Regions from separate parts of the Homo sapiens genome. Here region 1 is linked to region 2. The links come from fine-mapping of genetic effects on gene expression. A gene starts in region 2. The other region holds a variant in brackets. All regions are shown on one strand. Distances are between the middles of the regions. Region 1 has its middle 17 kb from the start of ESM1. Region 2 holds the start of GZMK (granzyme K).

What was found. PIP is the estimated chance that this variant, and not a neighbour inherited with it, causes the effect. A credible set is the group of variants that fine-mapping cannot tell apart.
Region 1: its variant is the best candidate, but not a certain one, in a credible set for the expression of GZMK in whole blood (INTERVAL, PIP 0.77).

What each region holds. Positions count from the first base shown.
Region 1 is chr5:54,999,764-55,004,959 of GRCh38, reverse strand. No RefSeq gene overlaps it. Among named protein-coding and RNA genes, the nearest start is that of ESM1, 17 kb to the right of the region's middle. The variant A/G (reference allele first, on the strand shown) is at 2,057.
Region 2 is chr5:55,021,418-55,026,613 of GRCh38, reverse strand. GZMK (granzyme K) reads right to left here and starts at 2,358. Exons shown (of 5, transcript NM_002104.3): 1 at 2,228-2,358; 2 at 1,807-1,954. The coding sequence starts at 2,291. LOC102467081 (a long non-coding RNA gene) reads left to right here and starts at 2,445. Exons shown (of 3, transcript NR_104662.1): 1 at 2,445-2,685; 2 at 3,902-3,986; 3 at 5,092-5,196.

The sequences.
Region 1 (5,196 bases), 22 kb after region 2:
ATTTTAACTTAGTATTTCCTCCAGACATTCTTTGAACATGTGTCAACAGGAAAGAACATGTTTCAAAATCCACTTCTGCCCATTTCTCTCTTAATAAACAAAATGAAGTTTCAATATCTGTCTTTTAGTTCCCTCCATGCTTTCTGAAATTTGCCAAAAAACACAGAATTACCAGAACTGGTCAAATCGATTCAAGATCAAATTTGGAAGCAGGTGATGAATCCTGCCATCTCCACTCTCAGTGTTTCTGTTTCTCTGAACAGTCCTCTTCTGCAAGGGTTTAATTGTCAGCAAATATCCACCAACATCTCACTGCTCAAGAATAATTTAAAGTGTTGTCACTTTTCAGTGTATTCTCATTTTATTTAGTGTTTCTTAAATATTAAAAAAAATTGAAGATTCAGAGGAAGGATTTCCACTGATGAGATGCCCAGAGTGATGACAGGGATGGAGATAGTTTGGATTGAGAATATTCCTTGTTCCTGTTAAATCACACCACATGGGCATCACCTGCTTTGAGTATGTAACAATCTGGCACTAGGCATGATGTTTTGTTTTTGCATGTTGTTGGGTCACAGATGAGCCAGAAGCCTTTGTGTGGTTGTTGCCCGGGGATATTTAAAACTGTCACACTGGAAGGACTAAGCAAATGCATTTTCTGCCCAATGTGTATGTATGTTATGCGGAAGATGACTAGAGAAATATTTTAAAGTTTGGATTTCAGTCAGAAAGTACTATTTTCACTAACATCAGTTTTAAACACCTCTCTGAAGAAGCAAAGAACCTAAAGAGTGAGGCCCCCAGGCAGAGGATGGAGCATCCAGTCTACAGATTGCATTCACATGCACATATACACATGCACACATGAGCGCACACAGGTATACAAGCCATTTCCAATGTAATAAATAGTAAGACTAATGGAAGTCGGGCAGTAGCATAGCATGATGTTAGGGAAGAAGGTCTAGTCCCAGAGTGGCACTTCCCCTATGTTCCTAACTTGCTTTAAGAACAAAGTCTTCTGGAGTCAGAGTCAGAAAAATGTCCTCGTGACTCACTCAATAGGACCCAAGGACCCAAGCCAGCAGGTTACAGTACTGGCTGATATTATGCAAAAAACAAAAACAAAAACAACCCAAATCAAAGCCAAGAATGCTTGTTGTGGAATCCAAACCGAAGTGCTCAAAGTGTTCTATAAGACAAGGAAGTTTTCAATAACTCATAATTCAGGGAGGAAGGAAAACTCTTCTAGCAGACAAGTCACGTTCCATCCCAGACATCTAGAACACTTCCATTGTTTATTCTTAAGGCTTTTATTCCCAGATGTTGTTTTGTGAATGTGTCAGAAGAGATCCAGGGAAGGGAGACTGCTGATGAGGCAGATTATGTGCATCCAAATGACCAATACACTTGCAGAAAAGGGTCAGAAAACTGATGGGAAATCTCTGGGTCAAAAACTAGCAGATGGTAAACCTATCTTCCATTTTAGAAATAACTTTTTGGGGGAAATCCCTTCATTTTCAAATTTTAAAGTAGTAATAACAATCACTGGCAACAATTGGCACCCTGAACTATATTTTCAACTTACTAAATAAAGATTACTCTTCTGATGGGAAAACAAGGAATAAAAGAAGCAGGCAGCCAGCATTTTGCCAAGTAAATCAGAGCAAAGCCAAGACTCCGTAGCAATTTAGCAATGAAGGCTCAATCCCTGCTGAAATTTATACTATAGAGAGAGAGTCAAGTAAGTCCCGGACATAAAACAAGATCAACAAGGAACATACATAGAAGGATTATCAGAATGTGGGCAATGCAAGTAAGAGACGAGAGATAATTCAGACAAATCTACAACAGGGATTATTCTTTTATTTATTTATTTTTTAAATTATACTTTGAGTTCTAGGGTACATGTGCACAACGTGCAAGTTTGTTACATATGTATACATGTGCCATGTTGGTGTGCTGCACCCATTAACTCATTATTTACATGAGGTATTTCTCTTAATGCTATCCCTCCCCCTTCCCCACATCCCATGACAGGTCCCGATGTGTGATGTGT[A/G]TTGTTCCCTGCCCTGTGTCCATGTGTTCTCATTGTTCAATTCCCACCTATGAGTGAGAACATGCAGTGTTTGGTTTTCTGTCCTTGCAAGAGTTTGCTCAGAATGATGGTTTCCAGCTTCATCCATGTCCCTACAAAGGACATGAACTCATCCTTTTTTATGGCTGCATAGTATTCCATGGTGTATATGTACCACATTTTCTTAATCCAGTCTGTCATTAATGACATTTGGGTTGGTTCCAAGTTTTTGCTACTGTGAATGGTGTTGCAATAAACGTACGTGTGCATGTGAATTTATAGTAGCATGATTTATAATCCTTTGGGTATATACCCAGTAATGGGATGGCTGGGTCAAATGGTATTTCTAGTTCTAGATCCTTGGGGAATCGCCACACTGTCTTCTGCAATGGTTGAACTAGCTTACAGTCCCACCAACAGTGTAAAAGTGTTCCTGTTTCTTCACATCCTCTCTAGCACCTGTTGTTTCCTGACTTTCTAATGATCGCCATTCTAACTTGTGTGAGATGGTATCTCATTGTGGTTTTGATTTGCATTTCTCTGTTAATCAGTGATGATGAGCATTTTTCCATGTGTCTGTTGGCTGCATAAATGTCTTCTTTTGAGAAGTGTCTGTTCATATCCTTTGCCCACTTTTTGATGGGGTTGTTTGATTTTTTCTTGTAACTTTATTTGAGTTCTTTGTAGATTCTGGTTATTAGCCCTTTGTCAAGTAGGTAGATTGCAAAGATTTTCTCTCATTCTGTAGGTTGCCTGTTCACTCTGATGGTAGTTTCTTTTGCAGTGCAGAAGCTCTTTAGTTTAATTAGATCCCATTAATTAGATCTATTTTGGCTTTTGTTGCCACTGCTTTTGGTGTTTTAGTCATGAAGTCCTTGCCCATGCCTATGTCCTGAATGGTATTGCCTAGGTTTTCTTCTACAGGTTTTATGGCTGTAGGTGTAACATTTAAGTCTTTAATCCATCTTGAGTTAATTTTTGTATAAGGTATAAGGAAGGGATGCAGTTTAAGCTTTCTACATATGGCTAGACAGTTTTCCCAGCACCGTTTATTAAACAGGGAATCCTTTCCCCATTTCTTGTTTTTGTCATGTTCAGCAAAGATCAGATGGTTGTAGATGTGTAGTGTTATTTCTGAGGCCTCTGTTCTGTCCCATTAGTCTATATCTCCGTTTTGGTACCAGTACCATGCTATTTTGGTTACTGTAGCCTTGTAATATAGTTCGAAGCCAGGTATCATGATGCCTCCAGCTTTGTTCTTTTTGCTTAGGATTGTCTTGACAATACGGGCTCTTTTTTCATTCCATATGAATTTTAAAGTAGCTTTTTCCAATTCTGTGAAGAAAGTCATTGGTAGCTTGATGGGGATGGCATTGAATCTATAAATTACCTTGGGCAGTATGGCCATTGTCACAATATTGATTCTTCCTATCCATGAGCATGGAATGTTCTTCCATTTGTTTGTGTCCTCTTTTATTTCATTGAGCAGTGGTTTGTAATTCTCCTTGAAGAGGTCCTTCACATCCCTTGTAAGTTGGATTCCTAGATATTTTATTCTCTTTGAAGCAATTGTAAATGGGAGTTCACTCATGGTTTGGCTCTCTGTTTGTCTGTTATTGGTGTATAAGAATGCTTGTGATTTTTGCACATTGATTTTGTATCCTGAGACTTTGCTGACGTTGCCTATCAGCTTAAGGAGATTTTGGGCTGAGACAATGGGGTTTTCTAGATATACAATCATGTCATCCGCAAACGGGGACAATTTGACTTCCTCTTTTCCTAATTGAATACCCTTTATTTCTTTCTTCTACCTGATTGCCCTGGCCAGAACCTCTAACACTATATTGAATAGGAGTTGTGAGAGAGGGCATCCCTGTCTTGTGCCAGTTTTCAAAGGGAATTCTTCCAGTTTTTGTCCATTCAGTATGATATTGGCTGTAGGTTTGTCATAAATAGCTCTTATTATTTTGAGATATGTCCCATCAATACCTAGTTTATTGAGAGTTTTTAGCACGAAGGGCTGTTGAATTTTGTCAAATGCCTTTTCCGTGTCTATTGAGATAATCATGTGGTTTTTGTCTTTGGTTCTGTTTATGTGATGAATTACATTATTGACTTGCATATGTTGAACCAGACTTGCATCCCAGGGATGAAGCCAACTTGATTATGGTGGATAAGCTTTTTGATGTACTGCTGGAGTCGTCTTGCCGGTATTTTATTGAAGATTTTTGCTTCGATGTTCATCAGGGATATTGGTCTAAAATTCTCTTTTTTTGTTGTGTCTCTGCCAGGCTTTGGTATCAGGATGATGCTGGCCTCATAAAATGAGTTAGGGAGGATTCCCTTTTTTTCTATTGATTGGAATAGTTTCAGAAAGAATGGTACCAGCTCCTCCTTGTACCTCTGGTAGAATTTGGCTGTGAATCCATCTGGTCCTGGACTTTTTTTTGTTGGTAGGCTATTAATTATTGCCTCAATTTCAGAGCCTGTTATTGGTCTATTCAGGGATTCAACTTCTTCTTGGTTTAGTCTTGTGAGGGTGTATGTGTCCAGGAATTTATCCATTTCTTCTAGATTTTCTAGTTTATTTGTGTAGATGTGTTTATAGTATTCTCTGATGGTAGTTTGTATTTCTGTGGGATCGGTGGTGATAACCCCTTTATCATTTTTTATTGCATCTATTTGATTCTTCTCTCTTTTCTTTTTTGTTAGTCTTGCTAGTGGCCTATTTTGCTAATTTTTTCAAAAAACCACCTCCTGGATTCATTGATGTTTTGAAGGATGTTTTGTGTTTCTATCTCCTTCAGTTCTGCTCTGATCTTAGTTATTTCTTGCCTTCTGTTAGCTTTTGAATGTGTTTGCTCTTGCTTCTCTAGTTCTTTTAATTGTAATGTTAGGGTGTTGATTTTAGATCTTGCCTTCTTTCTCTTGTGGGCATTTAGTGCTATAAATTTCCCTCTACACACTGATTTAAATGTGTCCCAGAGATTCTGATATGTTGTGTCTTTGTTCTCATTGGTTTGAAAGAACATCTTTATTTCTGCCTTCATTTCATTATTTACCCAGTAGTCATTCAGGAGCAGGTTGTTCAGTTTCCATGTAGTTTGGTTTTGAGTGAGTTT
Region 2 (5,196 bases):
TGTGGGAAGCCACCATTGAGCTATTTTGTAAATATTTTGAATTTCATAAAGCTTAATATTTTTCCAACCACCGATCTGCCTACTTTTTACACCCAAGTGTCCTGTAGAGGAAATTTGATCTACATATTTTGCAGTTCTTTATACCCCAGCCATTTAAAATGATATTTAGCAATAGTTTGTTTTAAGAAAAAAAAAACAAAACACAAAAAACTCCAAGACCTCTCTCCAGTCTTTTGTCAATAATCTCTTTCCCCAATTTGGGAATCCGCTTCTCGTGAGTTAAATCCACTTGACAAAATTTAAAATTCAACTTAGTGATATTATTTAATTTCCTATAACACTTTATGGCTAGTGAAGCACTTTTTCATACACCATGTTTCAGGCCTAGCCAAAGAAAGAAAGAAAGAAAGAAAGATCTTTCAGTGTATTTCTTTCTTTCCATCCAAAGTTTGTTGAACATTTAGAAGTCAAGCTCTGTGTCTGGGGAGGTTATAGACCATTTGAATGTGTATTATGAGCATATTTGAAGATGTGCATATTTTGCATCAAATGAACATTCGCTGACAGTTCCCCACTCTGTCTCTCTGATCTCGAGGGGGCAAATGCCCTGGAGAAGAGAGAAGTGATGGGGATGAGAGTGTGATTTCTATGAGGGCAAGAACCCTGTGTAAATGAAGTAACCATATTAAATTGGAAATCAGTGGCTTGCTATTTAGAGATAGCAGAAGATCTCCCAGTTTGCAGGCTTCAAAACTTCCAATTTGTGATCAAACAGTTCCATTTAAATGGGGTAATCAGACAAAACCCCCAAAGCATAGAAAAGCAAATCAATTCAATTGTTCTGTTTAGATATAGACAATGCCTGGAGAGCAAACCATTACAGCTAAGAGAGATCTTTAAGTGAAAGAAAAGGAGAAGGCTCCATTTCAGCTTATTAGGTAAGAAACATAAGGAAACATATATACAAACAAAAAACAAAACCAAAAACCCAAGCAAACAAACAAAACAACAAATACCAAATTAGTTTTCTACTGGCATTTCCTTTTGTGATGGTTGCAGCATCCCAAGAGGGGTTTTGTGCTTTATTAGCTGAAGTAAGAGAATCCTAGGCTGAAATGGACTTTGGAAGGTTTTACTCTGTCTTCAGAAAAGCTTTCATTCTAAGTATCCTAGAAAATAACTCTCTCATTATCTTTCTCTTTCTAGAAGTCATCAATAACTTGTTTTTTTCCACCTAGGAAAGTTGTAAGTGGTGAGTAGCTACTGTTAGGTAGCTACTGTTAGGAGTGGCAAAGTAGGCTTCTCATGCGTATAATACTAATGATAATAGCTGCAATTTTTTTGTGCTTACTAAATGTGCCAAGCATGCTAAAATACTTAAACAGATACTATTTAATTCTCAAAACCCACAAAGCAGGTATGATATGATTATTACCCCTTTGTAAAATGGGGAAGCTCAGAGCACAGAGCAAGCTCAGGTTGTCTGATTTCCTTTTGAGCAGTGTGATCTAACAAGGTCAAGAGTACTGCTGCTTCAAGTATTACTGTTGCTGTGTTCCCTGCATTATACAGAGGACTTGAATTTGTCTAATGTCTTGCCTGGGAAAAGCAGCTCAGTTCTCTCTGAAAAGGAAAACCCAAGACAGAAAGCGTGGATGTGGAAGAAGGTAAATAAACGCCACCAGTTGGTCAGTAACCACAGAAGCTAACAGTAGATCAAATTCTCATTCAGGAGAGGTAAGCTTCTCTTGTACCTATAATAACTTTCAGAAAAAACACATGTCTGGAAAAGTGTGGAGGACTCACCGATATTGGCAGTGGGCTGCTGTCAGCACCCACTGTGGATCAATCAGAACACCTCCACAAACGTGATGTCCGCCATACTGGATGGAGGCCATAAATGGCCTGGAATGAGGTGACACTTCTTTCCCTCCAATAATTTCCATATTGAAACCTACAAAAGTAGACCAAAAGGTTTCACACAAAAGATCTAAACTACTGTTTCATGTAATTCTTCCAATGACAGTCACTATATTATTTTCAAAGCTTAAAAAACAACAATAACCCTACCTAAAAGCTACAATAATTTTACTGATGAAAAATTTGTATAATACATTACAGTTCAGAAAGATAGGAATGATTGTGAAAATAATTTTCATCTATAATATAACAATATAGTCAGTAGAAATTCATTTAATGTTTACATGTAGATATAGGAGATACTTACACACATGAGTCATATAAGCCCCAACTATTAGGAAAAACAGAGAAAAGGAAGAAAACTTAGTCATTTTAAAGATTTAGATTTAAGAAGCCCAGATGAAATGTGTTGATCCTGTGATGAAGGAAGAAGATTCTGAAGACTGAGTTTTGTTCTTGTAAGTTTTGACTTTCTCACCACAGGTGCTCTAGGGGTAAGATTTTTTTTCACACCTAGGTGTAAACGTTATGTATCAGTTTGGGGACTTTCAGGTCTGTGCTTTTAGCACTTTTTTGTTTTGTTTTGTTTTGAGACGGAGTCTCTCTCTGTCGCCCAGGCTGGAGTGCAGTGGCGCGATCTCGGCTCACTGCAAGCTCTGCCTCCTGGGTTCACGCCATTCTCCTGCCTCAGCCTCCCGAGTAGCTGGGACTACAGGCGCCCACCACCACATCCGGCTAATTGCTTTTAGCACTTTTTTGGGAGAGGTATGTATGCCATAAAGAACTCATATCTGGAGATACCATCTCTAATACCTGTATCAGAGTACTTATGCTATAAAGAAAATTTATACTATATGTGTATATAATATTTATAAATGAAAAATATCCATGCCATAAGAATGTAATGAAGTTGCAGACAGAGTTCAAAGATGTCCATTGCTCTCAAGCAATACTTACTATTTTTCCTGGCACAAAATGGTGCCTATCATATTTCATTCTTCTCTCTTTTTCATTTGGACATAGATTTATGATGAAGAGAGACATGGACCTTGCACAGATTATGGTTACTTCACAATGTGGCTTAGCTAAAGCCTGAGCACCAACCAGAGAAAACCATATGTTTTGCAGCAAACATCCCTACTCATGTCGTTTCTCTAAGTTTGCCCAAATTTGGTTAAATTTTAGTTACATTTTTGTGAGATTTCATAATGTTGTTAAAGGTGAACATTGGCAACTATTTTTGATTCAGAGTCTCTCTTTTACTCATTTTTAATTGAAAATGGCCATGTGTTTTTCCAGGGACTTAATAATAATGTCTTTTAAAAATAAAGGACTGCATTTTGTAATTCTTCCCAGGAACAGATGACAATGCATTGCCAGGCCTTCAATACAAAAGGTATTAGACTCAAGATTCTACAAGATTCTGTTTGTGCCAGACACTGATCAGCAGTGCAAATATAAAATGAATACAAACAGATCACGCATCAGAATGCCAATCACTTCCTAGTAACACTGATCAAAATTTGCATTAAATCAACAGATCTTTCTTTTAAGAGGTATGCATTTTATCTTCCATTCATTTTAGAAAGGAGAATTAAAATCCAGAGCTATTATGCTCGGCAGATTGCAAGAGACTCCTTTCAAATTGTTTTCTAGCACAAAGAGTAGGAATAATAAAAAATAATACTATAATTATGTATTATTCATTATAACTTAATAATATATAAGTAAAATACCTTATTTCCAAAATTCTTTTTATATGATCATTTATGGTTTCATGTCTATGTCTTTGAGGAAAGCAGGACAACTTATGTTACAATGGAAGAAATAAGTTCCAAGAGGCTAAGTAATTTGCCCAAGGCAACACAGCTTATGACCTAGACCAAATCACCTGCCTGACCTCCCTGTATGTTAAGTTGTATGTGAATGAGTACCCTCCCAGAACACAGAATTTTATAAAAAACCTGCTTTCCTTGTACAGGTGTGTGGCAACAGTAAAGCTTTCTACATGTTAAACAGAATGAACAAAACCAACGCAGAGCAGTGACTTCCTGTCAGAGCAGAAGGTGAGATAAGGAGGAGCCAGATTAAGAAAAGCCACAAGCTTAATAAACCAAACTTATTACTCCCACTCAAATGTCCCTGTGAATTTTCAAGTCATCTTTGTCACTGTTGATGTACCTTGGATGCTCTACTGTGTGCCATTGTTCCACATTGGAAGGCAGACAGGATGGCGTCAGTTCCCTGCTACATCCCAGTGATGCTGGGATCGTAAGGAAGATGGTGTGTGACAGGTAGAAGTGATCCAAACTCTAAGGAAGAAATAAATTGTAAAGGACGAAGCTTTGTGTGTGTGTGTGTGTGTGTGTGTGGCGGGGGAAATGGGAATGGTTACAAACATCTCTCAGCTGCTTATTTCTGAGTAGTAAGGATTAATGTCCACATAGCGTTGTACAAATTGCTGAACGTTTTTAGCTGTATTTCCAGGGAAGTGGTTGTCATTAGTCTTGTTTTATGGATAAATAAACTGAAATTCAGGGACTTGCTTGAGATTACCGAGCTAGCAGGTGGCCCTTAAGCTCCTATGTGCTGGCTCCCGGCTCTATGTTCCTTTCAACCTGGCTACATGCCTGCCTCCTTTGAGAAGTCCCTGGGGGTTTAGGGGCTCTGAGACACAAGCTAGCTGTGCAGAAGAGAAAAAGGATTTAGCCATACACACTGCGTGTAATTAGACATGGGTGAGATTTAGTTCAGTTGGGAAGAGTCTCATAACTCTTTCTTGTAGCTGACCTAGAAAATTCTGAGAATCATGTTGGTTAATAGTAATGAGTTATTTGGTTTTGGCTTTAGACCGATTTGCCAGTTAATAGTATCATTTGTTATTATATTCACGATTCTGGATTTGAGAACAGTGGGCTGTGTAACATGATGAGCTCGGCGATCTAATTTATTTCTGGGTGTTGGTTTTTGTTCTGTTGAGTCTGCTGCAGGGAGGGCCATGTTTGCTTTGGATGGCTTTACAGCAACTGTACCGGACTGAGCAAGTGCAAGGCTGTGCTCAGAGGAGGGCTGGCTTCACACGTCATAGCCTTGTGGCTCTTCTTTGCTGTGTTTAGCTGTCTTTCTTGCTGCTCTTAGAGATGTTTTGTTTCTGCTTCTCCTGTGTTTCAGGAGACCCTTATAGAACAGCTGTGCCACTGCTCCAAAGGCCTCGTGTGGTTCTATCCCTTGGACTGCCTTTCTTCAACAGCCCAGACACCTGCTCTGTCAGATTTA